Regions from separate parts of the Homo sapiens genome. Here region 1 is linked to region 2. The links come from fine-mapping of genetic effects on gene expression. A gene starts in region 2. The other region holds a variant in brackets. All regions are shown on one strand. Distances are between the middles of the regions.

Evidence for each region. PIP is the estimated chance that this variant, and not a neighbour inherited with it, causes the effect.
Region 1: its variant is fine-mapped to the expression of AP1G2 in T cells (TOPMed, PIP above 0.99).

The regions. Positions count from the first base shown.
Region 1 is chr14:23,066,438-23,075,788 of GRCh38, forward strand. It overlaps ACIN1 (apoptotic chromatin condensation inducer 1), which reads right to left. Exons shown (of 19, transcript NM_001386863.1): 9 at 3,039-3,180. Among named protein-coding and RNA genes, the nearest start is that of CDH24, 14 kb to the left of the region's middle. RefSeq lists enhancers at 2,025-2,549, 2,697-2,746, 2,827-2,916, 4,947-5,016. The variant A/G (reference allele first, on the strand shown) is at 5,028.
Region 2 is chr14:23,563,951-23,573,301 of GRCh38, forward strand. It overlaps AP1G2 (adaptor related protein complex 1 subunit gamma 2), which reads right to left and starts at 3,841. Exons shown (of 22, transcript NM_003917.5): 1 at 3,789-3,841; 2 at 3,161-3,369; 3 at 2,612-2,736; 4 at 2,328-2,469; 5 at 2,114-2,210; 6 at 1,866-1,942; 7 at 1,656-1,751; 8 at 1,169-1,249; 9 at 612-710; 10 at 383-438; 11 at 96-209. The coding sequence starts at 3,364. It overlaps JPH4 (junctophilin 4), which reads right to left. Exons shown (of 6, transcript NM_001146028.2): 4 at 7,852-7,970; 5 at 6,978-7,510; 6 at 4,088-5,767. The coding sequence ends at 5,684. AP1G2-AS1 (AP1G2 antisense RNA 1) reads left to right here. Exons shown (of 4, transcript NR_110555.1): 2 at 777-890; 3 at 1,506-3,472; 4 at 3,739-4,126. RefSeq lists enhancers at 3,054-3,143, 3,174-3,413 and silencers at 3,894-3,943, 4,933-5,032.

The sequences.
Region 1 (9,351 bases), 500 kb before region 2:
TGCTAACTCGAGGAAACAAGGAAAACCAACTTTGGATGGCAACTTCAACAAGGTAACCCTCCTTTCTTCAATGGCCAGACTGATGCCCACTGACAATGGCTTTGAGATGCTTGGACAGCAGACTGTCATGTCAAGACTGCCCAGACCCCCACCACACTGTGGAAAAGGGCAGCACCAGACCCACTGGAGATGAGGCTCTTGAGCCAAGTGCTAGCAAAAAGAACTCAAAGGTGTCTTTGATAAAGGAAGGTTTTTATGAAGGGCAGATTGTCCCCAAGGAGATCCTTAGACTTTCCAGCCACCGCAGGGAGCTCCAGCAGAGTCTTACTGTTTCCTCTCCAACCAGGGCTCAAGCCTTAGGGGCTCTGCCAAAGACCAGAAGACATCTTTGGGACAAGTCTCTACCCCAAACACTCAGTGGGTGAATGACGAAAGACTATGGGGGGCGGGGGAGAAAAGTGAGAGAGAAAAAGGGAATAGAGTATTTTCAAGTGTAGGTGCTTATTTCTGGAAAAACTAAGACCACTCTACCACTCTTCTAAAGGGTAGGGCAGAAACCTCGTGATGAAATCCCTTTCCCATCCACCCCCACCCGCAGCCCCGTTTGTGTCGTCTAACCAAGTCTCCTTGGTCTCTGTTAAGGGCCAGCCTGACCCCTAGCTGGGCCGCTCTCGATGGGTAAGTTAGTGAGAAAAACAAAACAAAAAAAAAGGTCTTAATTAAAACAGGAAAAACATGAACCAAATAAATAAATAAAAGAAATCAGAAAAAATAAAGATATAGAAAAAAATAAAATAAAATATTAAAAAAAGAAGAAGAAAATAAAGAAGAAAATAAACTAGGAATATGACAAATGTTCCAGGTACCATCTCACACCTGGGATCTTCAGTTCAGCCAATCGCACCTCACTGTGTACTGTATCTAGTCAACCGCCGGTCCAATCAGAATGAGCCCTCCCTGCTAGGCGCTGTGCAATTGGTGGGGGGTTGGGTTGGCAAAAAAGGTGGGCGCACGGCGTGGTAGTCAGCACGGCACTGCCAGAGTCCTCCCAGGGGCGCAGGGGGGGCGGGAGGGAAACGTGTGGGGGGACGCTGCCCAGTTTCCATGATGTCAAGACAGTTCACTGGCGGTGGCCAGGCTCAGCGAGGGATAGAGGGGGGAAAGGGGCAGAGACATCAGTCCTGGCCCTGAAGGGACATCATCTTGCAGTCCCTGATGAGATGGCCTGTGAGTAGCAGGAATGATCCTTGCCTTTTATCGTGAGAGGCAGGCAGGACCCTATGTCCACCAGTGGCAAGCTGCAGCAATAACACCACCCAATACTTGGAATCCAGGTGATGACTCCAGAGTCCCTTTCTCCTCTGCCTGTAACTGGGGAGGGGGTCCTCTCACCGAGTGGGATCATGGAGCCTCTGATGAAGGTAGCCTGGGGGTAGGTGAATACCCCAGGACCTGGCAGACATTCAGCAGCAAGGTCAGAATACTTCTCTTCGGAGAGTTGTGGCTGGCATCTCCTCAGGGACTCCAGCTGAGACAGTGGTTCCAGTCAGGTGGATGAAATGAGTCCCTGCCTCCAGGGATGGAGGAGAAGTTGGAGCAACCAACATGCTGCCCTTCACCATGGACAACAGGGACCAAAGGAAAGTCCATCTGATGAGCAAGTGGTGACACATGGGCTGGGCTGTCATCAGCATTAAATCCCCAGGGGCTCAGACCCTAGACTCCTCTGCACGGTTCCTAGTCGTCACAGCTTAAGTAGAGGGTCCCACTCAGTGTTTTACAGCATGGCACTGCGATCACAAACTTTAGGAGGTCTTGGTGCCCTAGATGGGGATCCCAACAGTCTGTAGCAAACAAGGCAACCCACAGTCCTCAAAAGGGCAAGGGCATGTGGGCAGGCGCCCCAGCACTGGCACAAGCTCTTCTTGGGGTGTCCCAAGTAGGGAGATGATGCAAGTCCACCCCTTTCCAAATGTTTTTTGCTTGCTCAATACAAGTCTCTCCAGAACAGTGTTCTTCTTGGCCCCCTGATGTAAGCAAGACAGGGAGGCAAAAGGGGGCCCATCACAGGAGCCCATATACATGCCCCCCTCTGGCCAAGACACCTGGATAGCAGACTTGGCTCTGATTGGGCAGCTCAGTAGCAGCGGGTGGGTCCAGAGGAAGAGGCGGCATCAGCGATTGGCCAGTTGGGCAGGGTTATATTTTACGGGCGGATTACCGTACATGAGGTACTTGGACAAAGTTTTACGGGGAAGAAGGACCTTGTAATAAATAATATTCTGCACATCAAATCACTTTCACCGGCCCCCACCCCCGCAACACACACCAGAAAAAGGCTACACACACAACAGTCCCTCCCACCTTGTTACCCCTCTCCTAAACCCAGCTCATTCTTTCTCAATTACTTTAAGAGCCAAGAAGACTTCGCTGGCTCTGATGGGGGAAGCCCCCTGAAGTGGGTGCAGGACACAAGATAACATATGCCAAAAAAGGAGGTAGAGGGGTCACAGGTAACTGAGAATGGGCCTTCCGGATCACAAGTGCTGGCTTCTAAGTAGCTACATCTCTGCAGTCAGACCACTGGAGGGCAGAGGAGGAACAAAAATTTCTCAGCATGGCTGGTCTGGTGAGAACCACCAATGTCCACTAGATGGCGTTGGGCTCCATCAGGCTTTTAAAAAGGAGGGAAAGCTAAAGGAGTTACCACCAGGAGAAGCTTGGGAAGACAGCAGGAAAAGCTGAACATAAATCTTAGATAAAGGGCCATTATCAGACTTTCCCGTTAGTTACAAACGTCTAGAGTCTGGGCACTACTTCCCCAACAAGGAAAGGAAAATGAATGAGCCCTGTCCCCGTCACAAGGGGTCTCCCTTGCTAAACCAGCGAATTCTCCCTTGGCCCTATTCTGATCCAAGTCCCTGCCTCATCCCTCCTTTAAGTTAACCCACCGTGTAAGAGGGATCACTAGAGTGCTCTACTCTTTCCCCTAGGTCCATTCCTGCCCACCCGCCCCAATAGGTGGCTTGGATGTTTACCTCTTTCTTCTCCTCATCTTCAACACTGCCCTCCGGGCGGTCATCATTGCTGACTTGGTCTGCAATAGGCATGGGAGGTTCTGGAACATCATTTTCAGGTCTGTTTTCACTTGTGTCCATGGTCACTTCCTCCTTCTCCTCACTGACAGGAGGGGGGAGTGGTGGTGGGGGGGCGGGCAGAAAAGAACCAAGGGGAAGAGAGAGCAAGATGTTAGTTACTGGGTCAGGAAACCCTCCTGCCTCATCACTTGGGTGGGATTAGGAGGGCTGCTTTTCTGATCAAGGTTAGAGACCTTGTCCCAATGGGAAAAGTGGGAAATAGATTTTCCTTGGGGAAAGAGCGTGGATCACAGCAACCACATCCACCTATTGCCCAGATGAGTTAAAAGTTGTCATTTGTGGGGTTAGGACTCCAACTATTCTCAGGTAATAACTCACCAGAGTACTCCTATATGAAAGGAGAAAAACCCTCCTCTGAAAATAGTCCCACAAAAGTGACTGTGATTTGCCCACAACCCTGTGGCCTCAGTCTCCCTGGCCAAAGGCACCTTTATATGGCAAAATTGCACGAGAAACGAAGGGAAGCCCGATTCCCTTAAAAAGACAAGAAAGAATGGCCAAGGCTTTGGCAAAAAAGCCTGACCTGTGTTTAATCAACTGCTTAATAAGTAAAGGCCTGCTGATCCTCAGGATCTGGAGACACCAGCATGGAGAAAATGGTGGGGGGTGGGGGGTGCGGGGCGGGGGGTGGGAGCTGCAGGGAAGAAGCAGGCCTGGTGAAGGTTCAAGCTTCAAGGACCCTCTCTCATTCAAAAGGAAAAATTAAAACTGCTGAATTGAGTATGAGAGCTCAGAGATTAGGGCCACTTTTACCTGCTCAGAGGTGTAGAAACTGTTCCTACATTCGGCTTTCACCCAGTTTCTCCCACTCCCTCATTCCAACTTCCAAGAGATAAAGAGAGCAGGCCTCCTAGTCAGGACACACCCTCCCCCACACAGGCAGCTTCCCCCAAGAACACCAAACCCACTCTCCCACTCTTAATCTCACAAGTTAGCTCCCATTTCAGGCAAAGAATCCCAGAGATTCACTTCAGATAAACTATCTTTCCACCTTTGATTTCTGTCTTCGTCCCCAACTTCTATCTCAAATCTCACCCCCTCTACCACCCAAACACCAAGCAAAAAAAATCAAATCAAGATGATCAGAGGCCTAAGGCTCAGGAGAGGGGAAACCAAGCCTCCCAGGCCGATAACCACCACCAGAAAAGTCAGCATTCCCAACAGGCTGACTGACTGACACTCAGAGGTCAGAAGAACCTCCCTAGAGCAGTCAAGAAGGGATGCACTAGGGGGGTTAGGGGGAGGGGAAAATCGGAACTGTGCCCCCAGCTAAACAGGCCCCCAGAGAAACACGAGATTTAGCTGCTTACATCTAGAGAAAAGGCTTATACAAAAAAAATATCTATTTCCCATACAGAAAGGGCATGTGGGGCCAATTAGAAACTGGGCAGGCAGGACAAAGGGGGAAGGCAGAATGACTGAAAACAAACCAAAACGAAAGACGGAATGAAAGCCATGAGGAAGAGAAGGAAGACGAAGGGAGCTAGGGCGGCGGGGAAAAGGCATACATGGAAATGTGAAGCTCTCACCCTTCTTTGCTTTCTGATAACATGATTTTTTTTCTCCCCCTGGAAGTGCTGTTTATCCCTTTCTGGAATGGAAGAAATAACAAAAACCAAACAAAAAAAATCCTAAAAAAAATAAAGAAAAAAAACCACACCTTCCTTGTTCCAAGATCCCACCACCTCCTCCCCAGCCACCCGATCCAGAGAGAGAAAATTGAGATGTAGCAACCGGGGATCCAAAAAATGGTAAATGGAAGGGGAGGTGGTGGTGGTGCGGGGAGGCTAAAACAGATCTGGCTTTTAAGAGATAAGCGTTAAGTCCTCACGGCAAACCCCGAGTTCGGCTGGATTGGTCTCTCTGGAG[A/G]AGGAGGAAGAGGGCCAGGCTGCTGGTAGTGGCTGGCTCTATTGTATTGGCGGAGCGGCAGCGATCAGCCGGAGACATGCAGGGGAGCCATCTTGCCACTTACCCAGCAGCCTGTGTGTGCGGATGGGGGAGGGCCTTGCTGCAGCAGGGGAGGGGAAAGAAAAGAGGGAGGGAGCTGAGTGAGCAAGGTTCTTATCCTTTGGCAGGCCACAGGGAGCCGACTGCTGGCTCCAGAGGCCTGGCCTTCTTTTCTCAAGTTACAGCAGCTACAGAGGCTTAACCCCCCAGGGCTGGAGTGCTCCCTCCTGGTCTTCCCAGGGGGCAGGGGAGGGGGCTGGGTGGAGGACATGTAAAGTTACAGCTGCTTGATTGGAAGATTCTAGAAAATAGAGAGAATAGAAGGCAGGCAAACAGTAGAGGTGGGAGTGAAAAAGGATTAAATAAGAACGATAAAGCCAAAGTTGAAAAGTGATTAAAGAAGGATGGTAATGAAAGCTGGATAGAGGGTGGGGCATGAGCAATGTTTTATGTGCCTACCATCCTCTATCCAGTAATCTAGGCATGGAACACTGAAACCAGACCAACCAGTCAGATGCTGCAGGTAGGGAGGTGGGATGGGAATTGTCACTATCCAATCACTACAGTAACTGGCTGCTCACCCCGGCAATGACCACGTGTTACTACTCCAACATGTCCTTTTCCCAGGGATGGTGGAGGGAAGTGGATAGCAGGGAGAGTTCTTTTTTCAAATACCAGTAGAAGGGGGGCAGGGTTGGTGTCTCTGAAGAGATGACAGACAACTTTGTTTTATAGAGTCTTTAATAAGGTCACCCTGCCCCAGGGTCCACTCGGGCCAGAAAAAGAAAGGATAAACAGGGCAAGGGGACCTTGGGTAGCTGAAGCTTGAAGGCCACTTCTTGAAGCAAGGGCTCCAAGGTGAGGCTCTAAAGTAGATAAGACAGTGAAGTGAGAGTGCTGCTATATGGGGCGGGGAAGATCAGCTGGGCAGAAAGCGACTGGGAACTAAGCAGAAAATATTAATCATGGGAATCTTCACTAGACCAAAGTGGGAAACAGATGCTAATAGTTCAAAAAGTGCTCAGTAGATACTCAAAATGCTTATTTGTTGACTGCAGAGATGTTCCTTTTGTGTCCTAGTGGCAGTAGAAGTTTACACTAAGATAAACTTCTGAGAACCAAAGCTCAGTGTCTCGTGTAACATTTGAGCTTTTAAGCTAGGAATGAAATTTTCTCCCCGCTGCTTAAAATCTTACACTTACAATGCCAACTGCATGCTAAAGTGGCCATATTTATACATTACTTTAAATGTTTCCTTTCACATAGTGGTCCCTGTCTGCTCAGGGTTAAGAGTGAAGACTCTGGAGTCAGACTGGCTAGCCCCACTCTGTTAAAAGTTGTGTGATAGTAGGCAAGTTCCTGGTTCTGTATATCTGTCTTGTAATCTGCAAAGTGGGCATAGTGACAATACCTATTTCATGGAACAGTGTAGTTAAGTGTTAGCTCTTAAGAGTCTGGCTTGGAGGACACCCCAAGTGAAGGTACAGATACATGTAAAATACATGCACACTTAATAGGCCATTATCTCATCTGATGCCACCTCTGGGGCTCTGAGTTTCCTCAAAAGAGTAGACTGCTTGTTTTCTGAGGCAAAGCCATTCAGTGATTGGCATGACAGGTTTTCAGCAATGCCCTTATCACTCTGTATAATAACTGCTACTTTATCTGCCCCCCATCTCTACCCTGCATAATTCCTCAAGGGTAGGGATTGCATCTCTTGGCCCCTAGCCCAGGGCCTAACACAAAGTAATGTTCCCTAACTATTTCTGAATTAGGGTGTCATTGTGGGTACCAAGTGGACACTTACTAAATGCTTGCTAACCTAAAAGTTTTCTTATTGAAAAAAAAATTTTTTGGCTGGGCATGGTGGCTCACGCCTGTAATCCCAGCACTTTGGGAGGCTGAGGTGGGCGGATCACCAGCCTGACCAACATGGAGAAACCCTGTCTCTACTAAAAACACAAAATTGGCTGGGCGTGGTGGTGCATGCCTGTAATCCCAGCTACTCGGGAGGCTGAGGCAGGAGAATCACTTGAACCCAGGATGCAGAGGTTGTGGTGAGCCGAGATCGTGCCATTGCACTCCAGCCTGGGCAACAAGAGCAAAACTCCATCTCAAAAAAAGAAAAAAATTTTTTTAATAGAATCCCCACAAACAATGTTACACCACAGAAAATGTTACCTTCAGCCATCCTCAAATAAAATGCTCTGTTTATCCACTGTCCTAAAATACTCTCAGCTGCTAATATGCCTCTGCAGAAGTGGCTGATTTTGAGAAATTTTGTTATTGAAAATTCCTTTTTTTTTTTTTTTTTGAGACGGAGTCTCACTCTGTTGCCCAGGCTGGAGTGCAGTGGCACAATCTCAGCTCACTGCAAGCTCCGCCTCCGGGGTTCACACCATTCTCCTGCCTCAGCCTCCCGAGCAGCTGGGACTACAGGCACCCTCCATTACACCCGGCTAATTTTTTGTATTTTTAGTAGAAACGGGGTTTCACTGTGTCAGCTAGGATGGTCTCGATCTTCTGACCTTGTGATTCGCGCGTCTCGGCCTCCCAAAGTGCTGGGATCACAGGCGTGAGCCATCATGCCCGGCCGAAAATTTCTTTTTTTTAAGAATAAGAATCTTACCACGTTCTCCTTTACCCTCTTAAGACACAAGAGGCGTGTGTTTTCTATTTCCCCATGATCAATTCTGTGGGACCCAACAATTCCGAACATTTTATTTTCAGACAATAATGAGGGCCGGGCATGGTGGCTCACGCCTGTAATACCAACACTTTGGGAGGCTGAGACAGGAGGACTGCCTGAGGCCAGGAGTTTGAGACCAGCCTGGCCAACATGGTGAAACCCCATCTCTATTAAAAATAGAAAAATTAGCAGGGTGTGGCAGCCGCGTCTATAGTCCCAGATACTCAGGAGGCTGAGGCATGATAATTGCTTGAACCCAGGAGGCGGAGGTTGCAGTGAGCAGAGATCGGGCCACTGCACTCCAGCCTGGGTGACAGAGTGAGACTCTGTCTCCAAAAAAGAAAAAAGATAAAGAGGAATCCTTGAAACTGTCCCCAAAATGGACTCTATCTACTTGCAGGACTAGTACCAAAACCTTGTTAACCATGTGTCAGAGCCCAACATAGCTTAACAGTCTGTGAAACTGCACAGAATAAGCAGTGGGGATATCTACCCATAAGTAAACAGTACACAAAGAAGCCCAGAAGAAAAGGGTACAACTACTTGGAGGCTAATAATATCACATTACAACTCATATGTGAATATGAGATTCAGAGAAGCTAATGGAAAAGGAAATTCCTATAGGCATATATGCTGAAATTTTAGTTATTATAGAAAATTCACGAGGAGCTGAAAAACTGACGTGAAAATTTAATAAGAAACAGTGGGACTAGATACCCTCAGAAGCATACTGGTCCCAAGATAACCTAGAACAGTATGATTTTGGGGTATATGTCCTTAGATAATTTCTCAGTGGAGCAAACTCTATTGATGACAACAAATTCTGCTTTTTCATGCATCATTTGGGATATTGGCATTGTATGTCCCCTGGGGAATATCAATTACACCATCATATTGGCTTAAGGAACCAATACCTTCCTCCTACACAGGCAGAAGGACAAACATGCATTGTACCAAGAGCCTAAAACTGCTATTGCCTGCTAGGTCTGTGCATACAGGAAGGTTGTATCTAGAGAAATCCAGGTCTGAATTAACTACAGCTGAATGATACAGCTGCCCACACAAACAAATCCCCTCTTTTCTTTCTTCCCCTTTTTTTTTTTTTTTTTTTAAGTAAAAAGAGAATACCATTATTTTCTGCTATATGGGGACATTTTTGTTATACCCATACAAGGCAGAAGACCAGAGTTTTGAACAGCACTCAACTGAAACAGGACTGAGGACCCACAAATTCCTGCTCCAAGCAATGAAAAAGACACCTTACCTCATAAATTTAGAATTCCTCAGGCACAATCAGAATCAGAATGGATTTAACCAAACACAGCAAAAAGTCAGTCAATCTCTTCCAAATGGTGACAGGTCCTTGAAGTCTAATTTTTTTTTTTTTTAACACTTTACTGCTCTGTTTTTTAAAGTCATATGACTTCTTGTTGAGACAGACAGAAAAACCAAGGTTAGGCCATAAATGGTCTTTTCCATTTTTTTTTTTTGAGACGGAGTTTCGCTCTTGTTGCCCAGGCTGGAGTGCAATGGCGTGATCTCAGCTCACCGCACCTT
Region 2 (9,351 bases):
CCCCTTACTCCAGCTGCTCTAAACTGGCTCGAGTCTTGGCCACAGGGCACTGGGAACCTCTGCCCTGCCCTCCTGTCCCCTCTATCACTGCTCACCGGCTGAGGGAGGCATCAGTTTCCCGTAGACATTCCACCACAGTGGGCCGATGCCGCTGCACAGCACTGTGATCAGACTGCACCAGTCGAAGCAGTGATGTCAGGGCTACATACCTGGTCAGGATGGGGGAGGTTCTATCATACCATGGCCATCAGCCCCCACTCCCCGTCCTGTCCTGGGTATAGGGATAAGATAAGAGAGAAATGGATCAGGAGGCTCTGGAGGAAGGAGGGCAGAGGGCCAGGGGATCAGTGGCACAGCCTAGGTAGACAGTTGGGACTATTACCTAATGTTCCTGTCACTGTTGAGTAGGAAGCGACCAAGAATGTTGACAGCTAGAACCTATGAGAGGCAGAAGTTGGGGTCAGTCGGAAAGGAGCAACCTGCTCAGCCATTGAGGACTGGGAACACATTGGCGCAAGATGATGGGGCTAGGAGGGAGAAACCAGCAAGCAGGACCTGTGTGGGTGAGGTGGTGGGCGGGGCCGTAGTGGGAGAGGCATAAGGGGTGATACCCGTAGGCCAGCTGCAGAGCGGATATCCATGATGGTGAGTACTGTCTCAAACAGGACCGCATTTCCGGCATTTCGGCTGGTGTCCGTGTTAGTGGCCACCTGAGTGGATGAGAGAGGAGATGTATCTGCTCAAGGCCCTCCTCAGGTCTCCTTTTTTTGATACAGGGTCTCACTCTGTCGCCCAAAGCTCACTGCAGCCTTGACCTCCCAGGCTCTGATGATCCTCCTGCCTCAGCCTCCTGAGTGGCTGGGACTACAGGCACATGCCAACAAGCCCAGGTAATCCTCAGGATTCTTGAAGGACTCCAACATGTTATCTGTCCATCCTTCAACCATCCAACAAAGTTCCCTGAGGCTCTACTATGTGCCAGGGCCAGCCTGGGCACTGGGGCAATAGCACTAAGACAGACTGTGTCCCTTCTTCATGGAGTTCACTGTCTAGAGGAGATGGAGAGGCAATTACACGGCCACTGCACAGTGACGAGTCATGTGAGGGGCACCCAGGGCTGATGGGGTCTCCAAGCAACACAGCTAACCAGTGCCCTCCCAGGCCCCACCTGGGCCAGCAAGTCATTCATGGTCTCACTGCTCTCCTCGTGGTTCCGGCCCAGGATCCGAAGCAGACGAAGTATCTGGACCTGAGGTTGGGTTGAAAATGGAAAGTTGGAGGGGTTCATAGGATAAGGAGTCGTGGGGCTGAGGAGAAAACTCCAACATGTGAGGGTCTGGCTCGCTCCCTAGAGCCTTCCCCCACCTCCTCACCTCCACAGGTCCCTTGGTCCTAGGAGGGGAACAGAGGTGTGTGAGGCCAGGGGAGTTTAGGACAGGCTTAAAAAAAAAATTGTTAACAAACTGTATTTTCCTGACTTTTAGGCATTCCCTCTCCCCTCACAGGTCCTGGGATGACCCGAGCAATCCTGTGCCTGCTACTCTGCTGCCCAGGACACTGAGAGAACCAGTGTTCTCTGGGAGGAAACCACTGGTCATGGTCTTACTGCTATGCCCTCTCTGATCCAGGGATACAGCAGTGAAAGGTCACCCCACCTGCAGGAAGGGGTCGCTGACTCCAGATATGCTGTGTTCTGTGGAGTATCCCATTGTCACCAGAGTCCGGAGGATGTGTACCAGCTGGGGTACCACCTGGAGGGAGGGCACAACTTTGGGCATTCGTTCTAATCCTCTCCAGCTAAAGCCCCATTCCTTCCCCACTGACCCTGTCTTCCAGGCCCAGGGCCTGCCCCTTCACCAGCCCACCTTTCGGAAGTGCCTGAGGGCTGCAGGGCTTCGTTCGCAGAGCTCCGTGATCAGCGTGATGGTGCCCAGCAGGATGCCTGGGGTCAGCGTCGGGGAAGTGAATGGTGGGGGCCAGGGGCAAGAGAGTCTATTGCGTGTGTGCCTGTGTGTGTGCACTACCCTTCTCCTGTGAGCTGGGGTTCCCATCCGATTTTCAATTCTTCTGTCCATAGACCTGAAGCAAAGGATGGGGGGCCCCACAGCCTTACCATGGTGACGCTCATGAAGCAGTTGGGCACAGGGTGGGAGGAAGACACTGGAGAGTTCAGGGACCTTCCGGATCATGTGCACTGCAGTCAGAATAGCCTGCAGAGGTCAGGGGCCTCAGACAGGGGTCAGAGGAGATGGACCCCTGCATCTACTACTATATAGCACGCAGCAGGCAGTGTGCAGGAGCACGTGCCAGGAGTCCCGCCATCTCACCTTCTTGCGCACGTAGGGACTGGGCTGCAGGAGCAGTTTCTCCACCTCTGGGGCCAGGTCTCGGCACATCTCAGCAGAGCCCATGGTGCTCAAAGTGCACAAGGCCAGGCCTTGTACTGGCTGAATCCCCTGGCTCAGGTCACTGCAGGGTTTGGGAGGACGGTCAGTCAAACCTCTGAGAAAATCAGTCCTTTTCAATACCCACAACAGGCAGTCCCCTGGGATTTCCAAGGTCCCTACTCTCCCATCTCCCTGATTCCAAGTGATTGCCAGAACCCTCTCACTTCTTGATGCTGTTGGTAATGAGCAGGTGGGCATCGTGCCTCTCATCCAATAGAAGCATGGCCCCCAGGTAGCCCACCCTCTTGTCTGTGAATCTGGAGGAGGCGATCAGTTTCAGGCACTCCATCTATAGTGAAGGGGGCAGACCAGGAAGAGGCAGGGGTGAAACCATAGACACTCACATCCCTGTTCCATCTTCCTCTTTAAAACCAGATTAACCTGTGGGGCATCATATCTCATCACTCTCCCTTCAACAAGAGGAGAAGCTTAGGAAATTCAGGCGTTAGTGGGTAGGAGGAACTAGGAGTTGAGGAGGATGGGAGCGGAGAGGAGGAGATGCCTGCCCTAAAGGAGGCTGGCCAGAGAATGAAGGGTTCAGGCCAGCTGATGACCAGTAGGGGTAGCAATGGGGAAAGAGGTTTGCAGTGCAGGCTGTGAAGACTCTGAAATTGTAGAATTTAAAAAACCAGGGCATAAACAGGTGAGAGAGTCTGGGACTCTGCCCCACTAGCCTTCATCAAGCTCAGGAGGGAGGTATTCCTGGCCAGTACCTGTCCAAAGTGGGCGGGGTAGCCCAACATGTGGACGTAGAGCAGTTTGGCCAGCTGCCGGTGCCTGTGCACTGGGTCCCCGTCGCGGAAGGAGGCCCGGATGTGGGCACACTCCTTTTGGATCACCTCCCGCTCCTGGGCCTGAGTCTTGGCCCCGCGAATCTCTTCGATGAGGTCCTGAAGCTTCAGCGAAGGCACCACCATCCTGACTGGCAGAGTCCGGGAGTGGAGAAACACTCTCTGGTCGGGCGTGCCTGGGCTTTCGGCCCAGGCCCGTCCTGTGTCAAGACCCTAAGAGCCCGGGTCCCACAGGTACCCTAAAATTGCGCCCGCATTTTACCTTTCCCGAAGTGGGTCTCCAAATTCCGCGCCCACCCCACCGCCCGAGAAGCCCACTACGCATGCGTCCGCACCCCACCGGCGCCCCTTCCTATTGAGCATGCGCGGGAGCCCCACCTATTTCTCTCTACCGTTTCCTCCCCCTACCTGGTACCCCATCCCTAGCTCAGCCATTGCTTTTTTTTCCACGACCCTCCGCTGTTTCTTCCGCGAGCTTCCTCCCCCGATTTCCATCTCAGGCAGCGGCAGCGGCAGCGACAGCCTGCCTACCCCAGGACTCCAGCCTCACCTGGCTTCTGCCTCAACTCCGCTCCTCTGCCCCCCAGCGCTTCCTGGTACGGGGCCGAGCAGGGGTTGGTGCTCCGTGCGGTCCTTCCCTCTCCCCGCCTCCACCACGGGACCCCGCCCTCCTGGGCCGACTGCAGAGCCTTCCTGAATCCTCTGACCTCGGGCCTCAGGCTTTAGCGGAGAGACAGCATGATAGGCCTGGAGTTCTTCAAGAGGCCTCCTCGCACATCCTTACCACCCGGAGAGCCTCAGTTTGGATTTGAAGCCATCGCACCCCAAAGGAGATGACAATCCCCCCCCTTTTTTGAACTTTTTTATTAATATATTTTTTTTGTTAAATTTCTTTGTATTTTTTTCCTGCAAGACTTGGTGTTGGCGGCACTGTTGTAGTTTAACTTCAATCCCAAATTCCATGAAATAGAAATCAGAAGTAAAGGTTGAGAGGGGAGGAAGGAGGGAGGCAAGCCAAGGAATAAACAAGAGTTTGACTAGAAAAAAAGAAGAGGGTATGTGTGGTGGGCATTCCTGGGCAAGGCCATTCCTTGAGGGAGGGGGTTGGCAGGCAGCTTGCCTCTGCCTCATGCAGGGGAGGGAGGAAAGATCCCCTGGGGACCCTGCAGTCCCCTCTTCCTAGGGCTTCCTGCTCCCAGGGGAAAAACTAATACCAGAGAGGGATCAGCCACAACCTCAAACAGGGCTCTCCACCCACCTGTCACCCGGGTTTGACTCCCACCTCTGCCCTGCCTGGGAAGCATGTGAGATCAGCTATCTTTGATCCCCTCCTTCTGTTGTTTTCCCATTTCACAAGATTCTGATGTAAAGGGGGAAGGGATATAACCCATTTTGGGACTACTAAACTTGTCACAGCTTCTGCTTCCATGTGAGCTCCTGTTATCTTGTCTGGTCCTATCCCCCAGAAGTGCCTCCTCCCACCACAACTCCCAGAGTTGGGATGTGGGGGCCTTGCTCAAGTGCCTCTAACCCTCTGCAGTAGAAATGTCTTCTTCAGGCCCCTTAGGAATTTAATCAAAGGCCACAAGTGAGTCCAGACCAACCAAATAAACTATTATGGGGGAGACAGAAGGGTGGGAGAAGTCAGTGGCAAAGTCTGGGCAGGGTGGACTTGACTGCATTGGATATTCTCTGTTCCTTTACACGTTGCTCTTGGCATGGCATGCCACCAGAGGGGGCTGGAGGAGGGGCTGGCCGATGAGGAGAAAAAGAGGGAAATGCTGGGGAGTTACTCTACTTTTCACTTCCCTTCTCTCCTTCAGGGAAGGATGGAATTGGGCAGTAACCCAGCTCAGTGCTTGGAGGTAAGATAATAGCCTCCAAGATTAGAGGTGGAGGATGCACCTCCTGCAGCTTTTTCACTAGGCCTCAGAGGGACAGCAGGCCCCTTAGGCTAGGGAGCCACAGCAGCTCAGCCAGTGCCTTGCCCGACATTCAATCACTCCTTCTTCATTTTCTTCCTCCTCTCCATTCAGCTTCCAGGAGTCTCCTTAGGACACCAAACCCCCACCCGCAGCGAAGTTGAGGTCTAAAGAAAAGGTGGGAGGGCGTGGAGCAATGGTCTGACTTAGATTTGTGTGTCTCAGAGAAGACAGCAACTCTGAGAGAGAAAAGCCCTTCATATGTAAACAATCTAGAGAAAGAAGGGGTTGGGATGGGGAAGGGAGTGAGGAATACAGAGACAGATCCAGAAGAAATGAGATAATCTGAAAGAAGACAGGGAAAGAAAAAGCGAGAGAAAAAAACAAAGGAGCACAGAAAAGAAAGGAAGAAGAGAAAGAAAGATAGGAGAAAACACAGCCAGGAAGAGGAGAAGAGAAAAAAGGCAGGTCAAAGGGGTGAAGAGGCACGCAACCAAAGCCAGAACCAGGCCAGGAAGTAGCCTCAGGTGAGGAGCTGGGAGAACAGGAATGCCAGGCTGAGGTCCAGGAGGGCCACGGCTCCCACCACCAGGGGGTTGGCAGCTCCCTAGAGAGACAGAGGGGGAAGCAGACTCAGTCCCCGAGGACAGGGCCCACCTTCCTGCCCTGACTGAGGTGGCAGAGCTGAAGGGTCTCAGGCACCTCCCTGCACAGCCTGGAGCAGGGGGATCGCCAACATTTGTTTTGGATTGCAAAACCCCCTCTTCTCCCAGGCAGGGCCCCACCTTTCCTCTGACACCTTCAATGCAGGGACAGCCCTTCCACCTCCTCCCTCTAGTCCCCTCCCATCAGCATATCATGTGTCCCAGGCAGGAGGTGCCTGGCCTTAGTAGCAGACATTGGCAGCAGCAGCCAGTACTGCAGTAAGGCAGAGGGATGAAGGGGTGAGGATGTGGTTGCTAGGAAACAGAAGGCCTAGAGCCCAATCAGAGTAGAGGGTTCTGGGCAAACTCCGCCTCTCCCGGTTTTCTGCCTTCTTCTCTATTTCAACTTCTTCCCGGGAGAGGGAGGGAGAGTCAGGGTAGGGAGGGAACAATCTTTTCCTTTTTTATTTCTGGGCACCAAAGAGAGAAAGTGCGGAGGTGGGGGTGGGGGTGGAGTAGGAAACTGAGAGCTGGAAATGATATGGAAGGAGAACGGGGGAAAAATGTTCTGGCTCTCCCATTAATTATTAGTTTACAACCCTGGGCAAGTTACTTTTTTTTTTTTTTTTTTTTTTGAGACAGAGTCTCGCTCTGTCACCCAGGCTAGAGTGCAGTGGCGCGATCTCAGCTCACTGCAGGCTCCGCCTCCCGGGTTCACGCCATTCTCCTGCCTCAGCCTCCCAAGTAGCTGGGACTACAGGCGCCCGCCACCACGCCCGGCTAAATTTTTTTTGTATTTTTAGTAGAGACGGGGTTTCACTGTATTAGCCAGGATGGTCTCGATCTCCTGACCTCGTGATCCGCCCACTTCGGCCTCCCAAAGTGTTGGGATTACAGGCGTGAGCCACCGCGCCCGGCCTGGGCAAGTTACTTTAAGTGCTCTGGGCCTCAGTTCCCCCATCTGTCAAATGAGGGAGTTGGGCTTGCAGGTGTGTAAGGTTCCTTCCAGCTCGAACGCCCTCTATTTTTTTGAGGTGGGATGTGGTCCAAGACTGGCCAGGCAGAGGAAGCCGAGTGAGATAAAAAGCCCCCCCGGTGATCAGACAGTTCTGGAAAGGGTGGGAGGCAAGGCTTTGGGAGAAGAGGGCACACAGCAGGGACAGAGGATCTCACCGGCTGGGCAGGCCTCTCGGTTGCAGCGGGCTCCCCGAGCTCTTCTGTCAGGCACCCAGCATCAGGACCCCTCGAGGACGAGCCCCTCAGGACCAGCATGGCGATGGGCTCAGGCTCCGTGCCTGCTGGGGCCCTCAGCGGGGGCAGGGGCTCTTCATCCTCCCCCTCCTCCTCTCGAAGACTTCCTGAACTGTCGCTGCAGCCTCCGAGGAGTGGGGAACCGTCTCTGGGCCCTGGCCCTTGCATCCCAGCCTCATCCTCAGCCTCATAGCCAGCTAGTTCCTCTGCCTGTGCGCCTGCCCCCCCCCACTCCTCAGGCCAAGCTTTGGGGCTGGAGAAGGGACCCTGGTCCCCTCCAGGAGGCAGTGGGCTCCGGCAGGCAGGGGGTCGCCAGGGTTGGCGGGAGGAGGCAGGACTGCTGGGCAGTTCAGGGGATCCCTCTGAGGGGGTCAGTCCGTTCTCATATACCCCAGGGCTGTCCTCATCCAGGGGCTCCGTGTCGGAACCTTCTGAGTCCTGCCTGGGTCTGCGGCCTGGGTAGGGATAGCTGAGAATCAGAGGGGCCTAACTGGCCTTGGGCTGGAGTGGCTGCAGCTTTATTCCTGACTGGGCACTTCCCAGGACTTTGGAATTCCCAGGCTCATAGCCTCTCACCGCCAGACCCCAAACCCCCCATTATCCTACTGCATACATTCCCAAGTCCCACTCCCCAGACTACCAGGTCTGGCCCCCACCCTGTGTTCCTTGCACCCTCATTCCTTGTTTTTTCCCATCCCCACTTCCCTTGCAGGGCTTCTCATCTGTTTCCCCACACCTGAGCCTCTCTAGCTCCCTAGGGGCCTCACTGCCCTCCCCCCAGCTGTCCATGCCTCACCTGGGGCCTCTAGCATGGGCTGCAGGTCCTGGGCTATCAGTTTGGCCATTCGAGCTGCCTCCACGGCCTTCTCAGCGACACTGCTGGCTGCCACTGCCTTTAGGAGGGCGTCTGCTGCCCTGTCGGGTCCAGAGACAGGGATTTAGCAGAACTTCCCCCACTTCAAGTTAGTCCCTGCTCAGATGCTCCAGCCCCCTAGCCCCTGTCCCCTCTACATCACATCCTCCTCTCCTCTGGAGTCGTCACCCTTCGCCACACTCTGCCAGCTGCTTCCCTTCCTGGCAGGCCAGGGCAGCTCCCGTTTGGTTTCCTCCCCCTGACCTGGGCTGTGTTTGCCACCATCACACCCTCCTGCTCCTCTCACACCCTTCTACTGCTACGTCCTGTAGTAACACTTCTTCCAGTTGCAAGGGCCAGGCCCTCCTGGAACTGTGTAATTCCATTCCTATCCTGCCCCCTTCCCAGTGACAGTCGAGACCTCACTCTTTTAGCACATCCCCTGCAGTCCTGCTTGGTGCTTATGAGCTATACTACCACCTTCTTTGCAGTTAGCACCTCCTGTTGTTACTAACCCCTCTCACCCCCCTGGAGTCACAGGCCTCTCTGTGGGGTCTAGCACAGGGTCCTGTACCTTGATCCTCCCCTCCAAGCAGCTTCGCCCCTGCCCCGCCCCCTCGTTCAGAGCCACCGTCTCCCTTATGTTAACAGTCTCTGCCTCCCTTTCTCTTTCTACTGTCACTTCTCCTTACTATTAATCCTACCTCTACCCGTACAGATTTCCTGGCATGAGAACTTCCTATCTTGCGTTCCTTCAGCCTCTTCTGTTATGACACTGTTCTTCCTCTTGTCACTGCTACCACCCCACTGCCCCCCGTCATGCTTTCCTGAGCTCTGGAACTGGAATGAGAGTGGGTCTCCCCTTTCGGTAATGATCCCATCCCCTCTCCCTACTAACATGCAATATGCTTTCTCACCATTGCAACTACACTTCTGGCTAAACCCTTAGTCTCCCTTCCACAACCCCCTACCACCTTCCCTGCTCCTTAGGTGCAGGCAGCCTGGGAGTCTGATCAGTCCTTCCCCACTGTTGCTTCTCAGTTCTCCCTGTGATGTCAGATGCTTCCTCAGTTTTCTCTTCCCTTTCACCCTCTGCTGTTAATCGTAGATGCCTTGTCATCCTTAAATGAGTTCTGTAATTCTGAGGGTGGGGCACAAAAGAGCTGAGGAAAAGGCAGGCCGACGAGCTGCCATGGGCTTGAATTGATCACACCCCATGACTTCCTCTGGCCACAGGCCTGTTCTCTCTGGCTCAGGAAGGCAGTCTGGTATGGGGGTGGGGAAGAGGATGGTGATATCTACTGTGCATATTCTTAGTCCATAGCCTCTTCTTTATGTTCTTTGGGAGCCGTGATTAGCCCCTTCTCCTCAAACCTGGTGGGTCAAAGATCTTTAGAGCCTATTTGGAGGGATCTCAGATAACGTGGCTCTTCTGTCTTAGGA